2 linked regions of the Homo sapiens genome follow. The protein of the gene in region 1 purifies or fractionates together with the protein of each later gene. This does not show direct contact. Each region holds a gene or a part of one and is shown on either strand. Other genes may lie near its edges. The genes, in order: STPG2 and GDA.

Region 1 (4,255 bases):
TAATATTTTATATGTTTAATTCAAAATAGAAATAATGAGAGCTTGAACTAAGTCAAGGACAGCTAAATGGAAAAGAGGAACTAATCAAACAGGCACTGAGAAGATAGAATCATTAGGTGTTAATGATCAACAGGAGTAGTCAGGGAGAAAAGAGTCTAGAATAATTCCAAAACTTAAAGTTTATTATAGACTAATAGGGAATTTTTAAAAAGGGACCAGTATTGCTGGAAAAAAATTTTAAAAGGGACCAGTATTGCTGGAAAAAATTATGAGCTCAGACACTTAAAACTTCAGATACCGGAGACCATCTAGGTAGAGATGTTCAAAAAAGTAACTGGTTATGACTCAAGGACATCAACAGCAACAAAAAAAGAATTAAAAAGAAGAGAAAAACAAACAAAAGTGATTGGCAGTGTTGAAAGCCGAAAGATTAGGAGAAAGCTCACCTTAGAGACATAAATCACCTGTATCTCTTAAGATTTCCTTCTGGGAGTCATCAGAATCAGAATATGGATAGCAAATGAGAAAGTACACACGAGAAAAGTAACAAGCAAAGGATTGGAAGTACAGTACATAAACATTTAAAGATGTGTCAAATGAGGACTAAGCTCTGATTTTTTTTATTTTGCCCAAATTCCTATCTAAGGGGTCTAGGGAGTCACGCCCTACAAACTATACATTCTTATCAGATGGATTTTATTTAATCCTATATATAGTGGCTTACTTTCCAATCTGACTCTGGCATAACATTATGAGACAAGGAAAAAAAATCAAAATGTTTTACCTAAAAATATATTTCCTTGCCATACCTTGAAATTGCCCTGCAAAGTCTCTTGTGGGAAAAATCAACACTCTATAGAGAATACCCTTTCCCCTTCGTTTTCCTTCCTTTCCAGATGCAGGAGATAATCAACTAAGAGCCAGGCACTCTTTTAGGTCTGATAAGAAGCATTTTACAACCTGCTCCCTCTCTCTGAAGTCTGCTATCTGAGAGTTTCCTCTGCACAACAAAACTTGGTCTCCACAATCCTGTATCTTAACCTGAACATTTCTTTTGATGCCAGTCTTCAGATAGACTCAACCAATTGTCAACCAGAAAATGTTTAAATTTACCTATAGCCTGGAAGCCCCCACTTTGAGTTGTCCCGCCTTTCTGAACAAAGCCAATGTATTTATTAAGTGTACTTGATTAATAACTCATGCCTCCCTGAAATACATAAAGCCAAGCTGTACCCCAACCACCTTGGGCACATGTTCTCAGGACCTCCTGAGGGCTGTGTCACAGGCCATGGTCACTCATATTTGGCTCGGAATAAATCTCTTAAAATATTTTACAGAGTTTGACTCTTTTCATCAACAAGAAACATAAAAACATTTAAAGAAGGCCATGAAGGACTGCTTGGAGAGGGGGAGAAGATGATGCCCTGATTCGGCATTTAACAAATGTTTATTAGGTCCCAATCATGTTCCCAGACACTCTTCCAAGACAGTAGTTGGGAAAAAAAAAAAAAAAAAAAACAGGAGGAAATGATGTTACATTTTGGAAAGAAGTGTTTCCAAGAATAAAGTGGTCAGTTATGTCAAAATTAAGGATTGCAAAGTGTCACAGGGGGTCATTGTTAGCCATTGTTAGGGGAATTAATGCTTATAATGCCCAACTCCATTAAAATAAAGATAGAATAAGCTGCAAGAATAGTGATACCAGATACTGTGAAGCAGTACAATTCAACATGTGAAACACTGACAGAAGTCAAATTTGTACTCCACCCCAAGAAACCTAAACCTTCCCTTATCTGATCAGTTATGTAACAGAATAATGGATCCTGGCATTTGCTTGAAAATACATAGTGTAGGTATGGGGAAAATGTAGGTTAAGAAAAACTATCATTTGGACGGTATTAAGCTCCAGAAAATCACCAGAATAGAAAAAGTAGAAAGCAAAATTGATGTATTTATTTTTGACTAAGTCACTAACTGCAAACAAACGAGGAGAGCAAATATTATTTAAATTATCCATCCCCACTCCACTGGTCAAAAATATAATTTTTCTTTACAGAATGTGGAGAAAAGGGGCTCCCCTGAAGTGTGTTAAAAGAGATGAGGACGGTCAGAAAAATCTGTCTGAAAAAAAAACGGAACTATCTTTAAATAATACTGCAAAATAGAAATATAAGCTACATCTTAATAAATAAATGTCTCTGGTTAATGGGAGGAAAGATGTGAGGCAGGCAGGATTACAAAGCAACGAGACAGCGGGAGGTAAGGGCACAGGATTTGGAGACTCATATATTATGTCAACACAGCCAGGAAATCAAAATCCTAGACCTAAACTGCACAATCAAAAGTAGGATGTAGACAACTATTGCGGAATCAAAAGTCCTAGCCATATGCTCACCAGCCTTTTGAAATGGGACAAGTGATACTATCAGTCTCATCTGTAAAATAAAAGTATAGTGTTTTCCCTGCCTACTTCATGTTTTGTTATGTTTACAAAATGGTACTATTCCGCTCTATGTTTAACTCACAAGCACGCAGAAGCGGAGCAGGCTGAAGATAGGATGCCTGTCACAGGAGCTCTGCCTCTTCCTACATCTTACCTGTCGCCTGCTGCTTCAGGAAAGGTACCTGGTAGGATCCAGGACCCACATGGGCCTCAGTGCTGCCACCTTCAGCCAATTTGAGCAGGCGGGGAGCCCGATCATACATAGTGCTCGGGGTGGTGGGGGCGCTGGGGAAGGGCAGGTGCCGAAAACGATAAAAACAAGGTAGCTAGAAGTGTGGAGAAAAAGGAAGCCGACACCAGTCTGAGGAGGCCGGGAAAGAACTTCCGTAAACAGGGAAATTAGGGGTGGGGTTGTCTCCCCGCCCGCTCATTGATACCAGATTTCCTCAAATCGATTTCTAGCTCTGTGGTAAAGTAGAGGGGTGAGCGACTAGAGATTAGACGTCCCACACAATCATCAGTTTGCCAGGTGCACGCCACCAAAATTGGGTATTAGGGATTAGACGCTCGCCCCGGTGCTTCCGGCCCTGACTCCGCCCACTTCTCTCCGCCCGGAAGCCTGGGGAGGAGGCGGGCCCAGTCTCTGGGGAGGAGGCGGGCCCAGTCTCTAGGGAGCGAAGTGGAGGTGCCTTCCTGGGCCGAGCCCTCGGAGCATGCGCACCGAGCAGCCACCCTTTCCCGGCTCTTTTTACCCGGAACCCGGCGCGCCTTGAAGAAGGCAGGCCTAAACCTCGTAGCTCTTGGGGTCCCGGTAACTACTTAGGTCCCGAACTTTTTTAAGTATGCAGAAGAACCTTAGAAAACGCGTTAGGAAGGGTGAGGACTAACTTGACCTTGATCTGCTTCCCGACTCAACAGAACCTAGTAAAGAAAAATGCAGTAGCATGAAGCAGAGAGCTTGGGGTTCCGCAAGCTCTCCCCCGCTTCTACTGCAGCCCCACTCGTACTCACAGAGAAAAGGCACCTCTGATCTTAACCTGTAGATAGTCCAAACTGCTAAGACAAACCCAGGGCTCAGGGCAGTGACAAGAAATGGAGAACCCAGAAAAAAAAATAACAAATAAGATAAGGGTAAAAAAGAAAAAAAAAAAAAAAGAAATGAGGACACCAGGCAAGGAGGCGAAAAGCTCACCAACTGAAGCCGTGGAAGTGACTGAAAGCTGCCTCTTTTGTCGTATGCCAGGTAACCACAATACTGATTCATCAATATTTAAAAAGCAAAGCGAAGGCACTGAAAAAGCCCAGTCCACCCCACCAAACCAATGATTCTGAACCTTGGGCAAAAGAAACCTTGCTTGTCCTTGGGGCTTAAGGAATCTATGTCAGAATCCACCTCTGCATCTCGCAGGCTGTTTTTTCTAGCAAGAATTCTGTCCAGATTATAAATATCCTCAGAGGCTTAGACAAATCCTACCTTGATCATACCTCACCTCCAAATGGTCTACAGTACGTTAATTTGTTCCTACTACAAGTTTTTATAGTTTTCATACTCTGTAATACACGATTTGCCACTCAATCCTGTGCAACATTTACTGTGGCTTCATTGTGCCATATAGGTCGGAACCCTCTCCTTGCGAGGCTATATGCTTCTCAAGGATGTATCTGTAGTACCTTTTTTTCTGTTCAATAGCTAGCTAAATTATTTATGCACTTAAAAAACACGAATTGGCATATACTGTAGGTTCCATCCCTGCTAAGTTATGAGGATACAAAGGCATAAGAAAGTCCCTGCCCTCAGGTGTTCTCTCTCTA
Region 2 (3,818 bases), on another chromosome or scaffold:
ATGTGGTTTAGATGAGAGAGGCAGTGTAGTTATCAACTGAGATATGAACTCCTAAGAGTACCTCTATCACTTATTACCTATGTGAATTTGATCAAGTTCCTTACCATTTGTATCTCCAAATTTCTTTATGCATAAAATAATTACTATGGTCTACCTAATAGGGTTGTTGAAAGGATAAAATGGATTAGTAAGTGTAAAATATATAGAATAATGCCTGGCATGTAGTACATGTCCATTAGACTTCAGCGGTTATTGTCAGTAATGCAGATGGAGAGGTGGATAGAATCAGTAGCTATTTAGATCAAGTTGACTGGATTTGATGATAGCTTACATATGTAAGGTTGGAAGGTAAGTGCATCAAGAGTGATCGCAAAATGTATGTAAATGTGTGTAAATAGTACAGTGGGGCACAAGTTGACCAGTGATAGGAAAAGCTTCTTGAAGGAAGTAGTAGCTGAATTGGACCTTTTAGGACTGGAACATGCAAAAGAGGATTATATAGCCCTGGTGAAAAGAGTGACCCAATGTTCTTCAGTTCTGAAGACTGCTGGGAGGAGGAAGAGTTCTTTCTCACCTGAGGCTACTTTACCAGAAGTTCTCTCAGTCTAAATCACAAATCCTAGTGATTGTGTATCATCCTTTCCTCCACTTCCTGCCAAGCTCAGCAACTCAAAATATGCTGTTGGTCCTGAGAAAGGAAACTGGGCTAATCCCTTCCTTCTGAGGCTGCTGAATAGGAGCTTGGCTTTCATCAGAAAGATGCTTTCACTCCCAATTATTACAAGATCATCTTGCAAATTCCCATTTTCTAGAAGGCTGATTGCTTGTTCAGAATGCTCATGGCAAACACTGTTGGTTACCCACTCAGCAGTCATGACCTCTTTTTCCTTATTAACACCTGAATTTGATCAGTCCATGGTAGACTCAGCCTGTGGATACATCATGGTGTAAGCCAGTCATGGTAATCCTATCTCCATTTATCAGATACTTATTCTTCCAGCTTCCTGGTAGCTGAGGGTGACTAGTGATAATATTCTGACATACAGGAAGTTTGCTCAGAAGCTTCTAGGATGTGGGAAGAGAAGCCCTGCCTTTTTTGGATACTCTCATATGAAGAAAAGATACTTGGAACTGCTGCTGCCACCATGTGAGACTGTGAGGAAAAGGTTAAGGGGATTTCAGAGACACCATCCCATTTTCTAACATCACTGAGCAGTTGAACTACCCCTACCTGGAACTGTCTACTATCAGACTTCTAGACTTCCTTTTTTTTTTTTTTTTTTTTTTTTTTGAGATGGAGTTTCACTCTTGTTGCCTAGGCTGGGGTGCAGTGGCGCGATCTTAGCTCACTGCAACATCCGCCTCCTGGGTTCAAGCGATTCTCCTGCCTCAGCCTCCCGAGGAGGTGGGATTACGGGCACTCACCACCATGGCCAGCTAATTTTTTGTATTTTTAGTAGAGATGGGGTTTCGCCATGTTGGGCAGGCTGGTCTTGAACTCCTGACCTCAGGTGATCCACCCACCTTGGCCTCCCAAAGTGTTGGGATTACAGGCGTGAGCCACGGTAGCCAGCCCAGACTTCTTTTGTGAGATATGAAATGTCTTTATTGTCTAAATCTCTGTTAGTTGGGTACTGTTCATTGCAGCCCAATGCACCCTCATTACTACACTGCTTTTCAATGAACAATATTTTACACTTTACAAGAATAACTACCTTCTCCTTCTTCTCCTTACTGGCCTTTCCAGGCACCCATATCAATAGTCAAGCCCAGCCAATTTTCCTCTGGGATTTCTGTGTGCATATTCACTTCCATTGCCCCCATCTACCCTTTAGTGTCTCTGAGCTAAAATATAACAGGAGACCCTTAACTGTTTTCTCTCATTCTAGTATTTCCCCCACATTACTGAAAACTCTTTTCTTGGACCATGGGTAGTATCATGTATCTACTCTTCTATAACCATCTATGGCTCACTATTGCCTCTAAGTTTCAAATGTCCTGGAAGATGTTCTAGGCATGACATTATTTGGCCCCAACCTGTTCTCTAATTCTTTCTGTTGCTTCATTTATCTGTCTGGCAAGTGGGAATAGGATTACCATGACTGATTTACACCATATTGTATCCATGAGCCAAGGGATGTCTATCCATGCAAATTTCTCCCTGTTTTCCAGCACATCATGTCCTTTTATGCCTCCACATTGTTGGCACCAATTTCTTTGCCTGGAATAGTCCTCCTTTTTATATCCCCATTTCCATTTTACTTCTATCAAAATGAAATCTTGCTCTTCCTTTAAGGCCCAGCTCTGATCTTCTCTTTTTCACAAAGGCTTTCACAAAGGCTTTATTCCCAAGTTGAAATAAATTGCCCCTTCCTCTGTTCTTCCATAAAATTTTTCATATATTTCAAATCAGTATTTTACAGGTAGTTAAGAACATGGTTTCTAGAGTCAGATTATGTGAATTCAAATCAAAACTCTGCTACTTACTAGGACAAATTTTCTGACATAGCTGAACCTCAGCATCCTCATTTAAAAATGTGGATTAAGGCTGGGTACAGTGGCCCGCACCTGTAATCCTAGCACTTTGGGAGGCCGAGGTGGGCTCATCACGAGGTCAGGAGATCGAGACCATCCTGGCTAACATGGTGAAACTCCATCTCTACTAAAAATACAAAAAATTAGCTGGGTGTGGTGGCAGGCGCCTATAGTCCCAGCTACTCGGGAGGCTGAGGCAGGAGAATCCCTTGAACCCGGGAGGCAGAGCTTGCAGTGAGCTGAGATCATGCCACTGCACTCCAGCCTGGGCAACAAGAGCGAAACTCCGTCTCCAAAAAAAAAAAAAATGTGGATTAATAGCACCTTGATAGAGTTGTGAGGCAAGTGAGATAGTGTGTTGTTATTATTTTTCTTTCTCTGAAGTAGTTATTCCAATTTGCCTTTGATTATACTTAGCTTTATAGAATGTTCTCACTCACTGAAATGATTTAAAGTTTTTGGAAAAAGAGAGATGAACTGGAGAAAAGGTAACACTTACTAAGTCATACTGTATTTCAGACAGTCTGCCAAATCCCTTACAAATCAACAACCTTGAGACAAGGTAAGGACACCATCATCATCATCATCATCATCATCATCATCATCTCTACTTTACAAATGAGGAAACGGAGGCTCGGAGAGTTACTTGGCTGCAGTCACAGCAAATAAGTGGCAAAGGCAAGACTCAGAGCCATGCCTGTCTGATGTCCAAGGTCCGTGCTCTCCAGGAGTCTCTGCTGTCTTCTGTCATGGAGAGGGCCAAAACTCTATTGTCCTAAGGCCCCTTCAACATTTCATGTTGTTTTAGCACAAAGTAGGTGGTCAGTAAAGTGTGTTGAATGTGATGTGTAATACAAAAACGAGGCAGGCAGATCACAAGCTCAGGAGTTCAAGACCAGCCTGGCCAACATGGTGAAACCCCGTCTCTACTAAAAATACAAAAATTAGCCAGGCATGATGGCAGGTGCCTGTAATCCCAGCTACTCAGGAGGCTGAGGGGGAAGAACTGCTTGAAACCAGGAGGTGGAGGTTGCAGTGAGCCGAAATTGTGCCACTGCACTCCAGCCTGGGTGACAGAGTGAGACTCCGTCTCAAAAAAAGAAAAAGAGAAAAAAAAATGAGTGATAGAACAAACCTTTCTCAGCAAACCCCACCTTAAAACCCAACTGTGTCAATATGAGTTTATTTACAGCCCATTGATTCATGAATTAAAAAAAAATTGAAGGCCAAAGCAATCACAAGGTAATTATAATTTAAAGTGAGTTATTCTAAACTTACATATA

The links.
Region 2: the proteins of STPG2 (region 1) and GDA purify together in Homo sapiens (affinity purification with mass spectrometry; one large-scale study listed by BioGRID and IntAct). This does not show direct contact.

What each region holds. Positions count from the first base shown.
Region 1 is NC_000004.12:98,140,445-98,144,699, forward strand, and holds the start of STPG2 (sperm-tail PG-rich repeat-containing protein 2), read right to left. Parts: upstream 3,033-4,255; 5' UTR 2,707-3,032; coding exon 2,598-2,706; intron 1-2,597.
Region 2 is NC_000009.12:72,155,766-72,159,583, forward strand, and holds part of GDA (guanine deaminase), read left to right. Parts: intron 1-3,054; exon of another isoform or gene 3,055-3,248; intron 3,249-3,818. UniProt on the Homo sapiens protein: Catalyzes the hydrolytic deamination of guanine, producing xanthine and ammonia.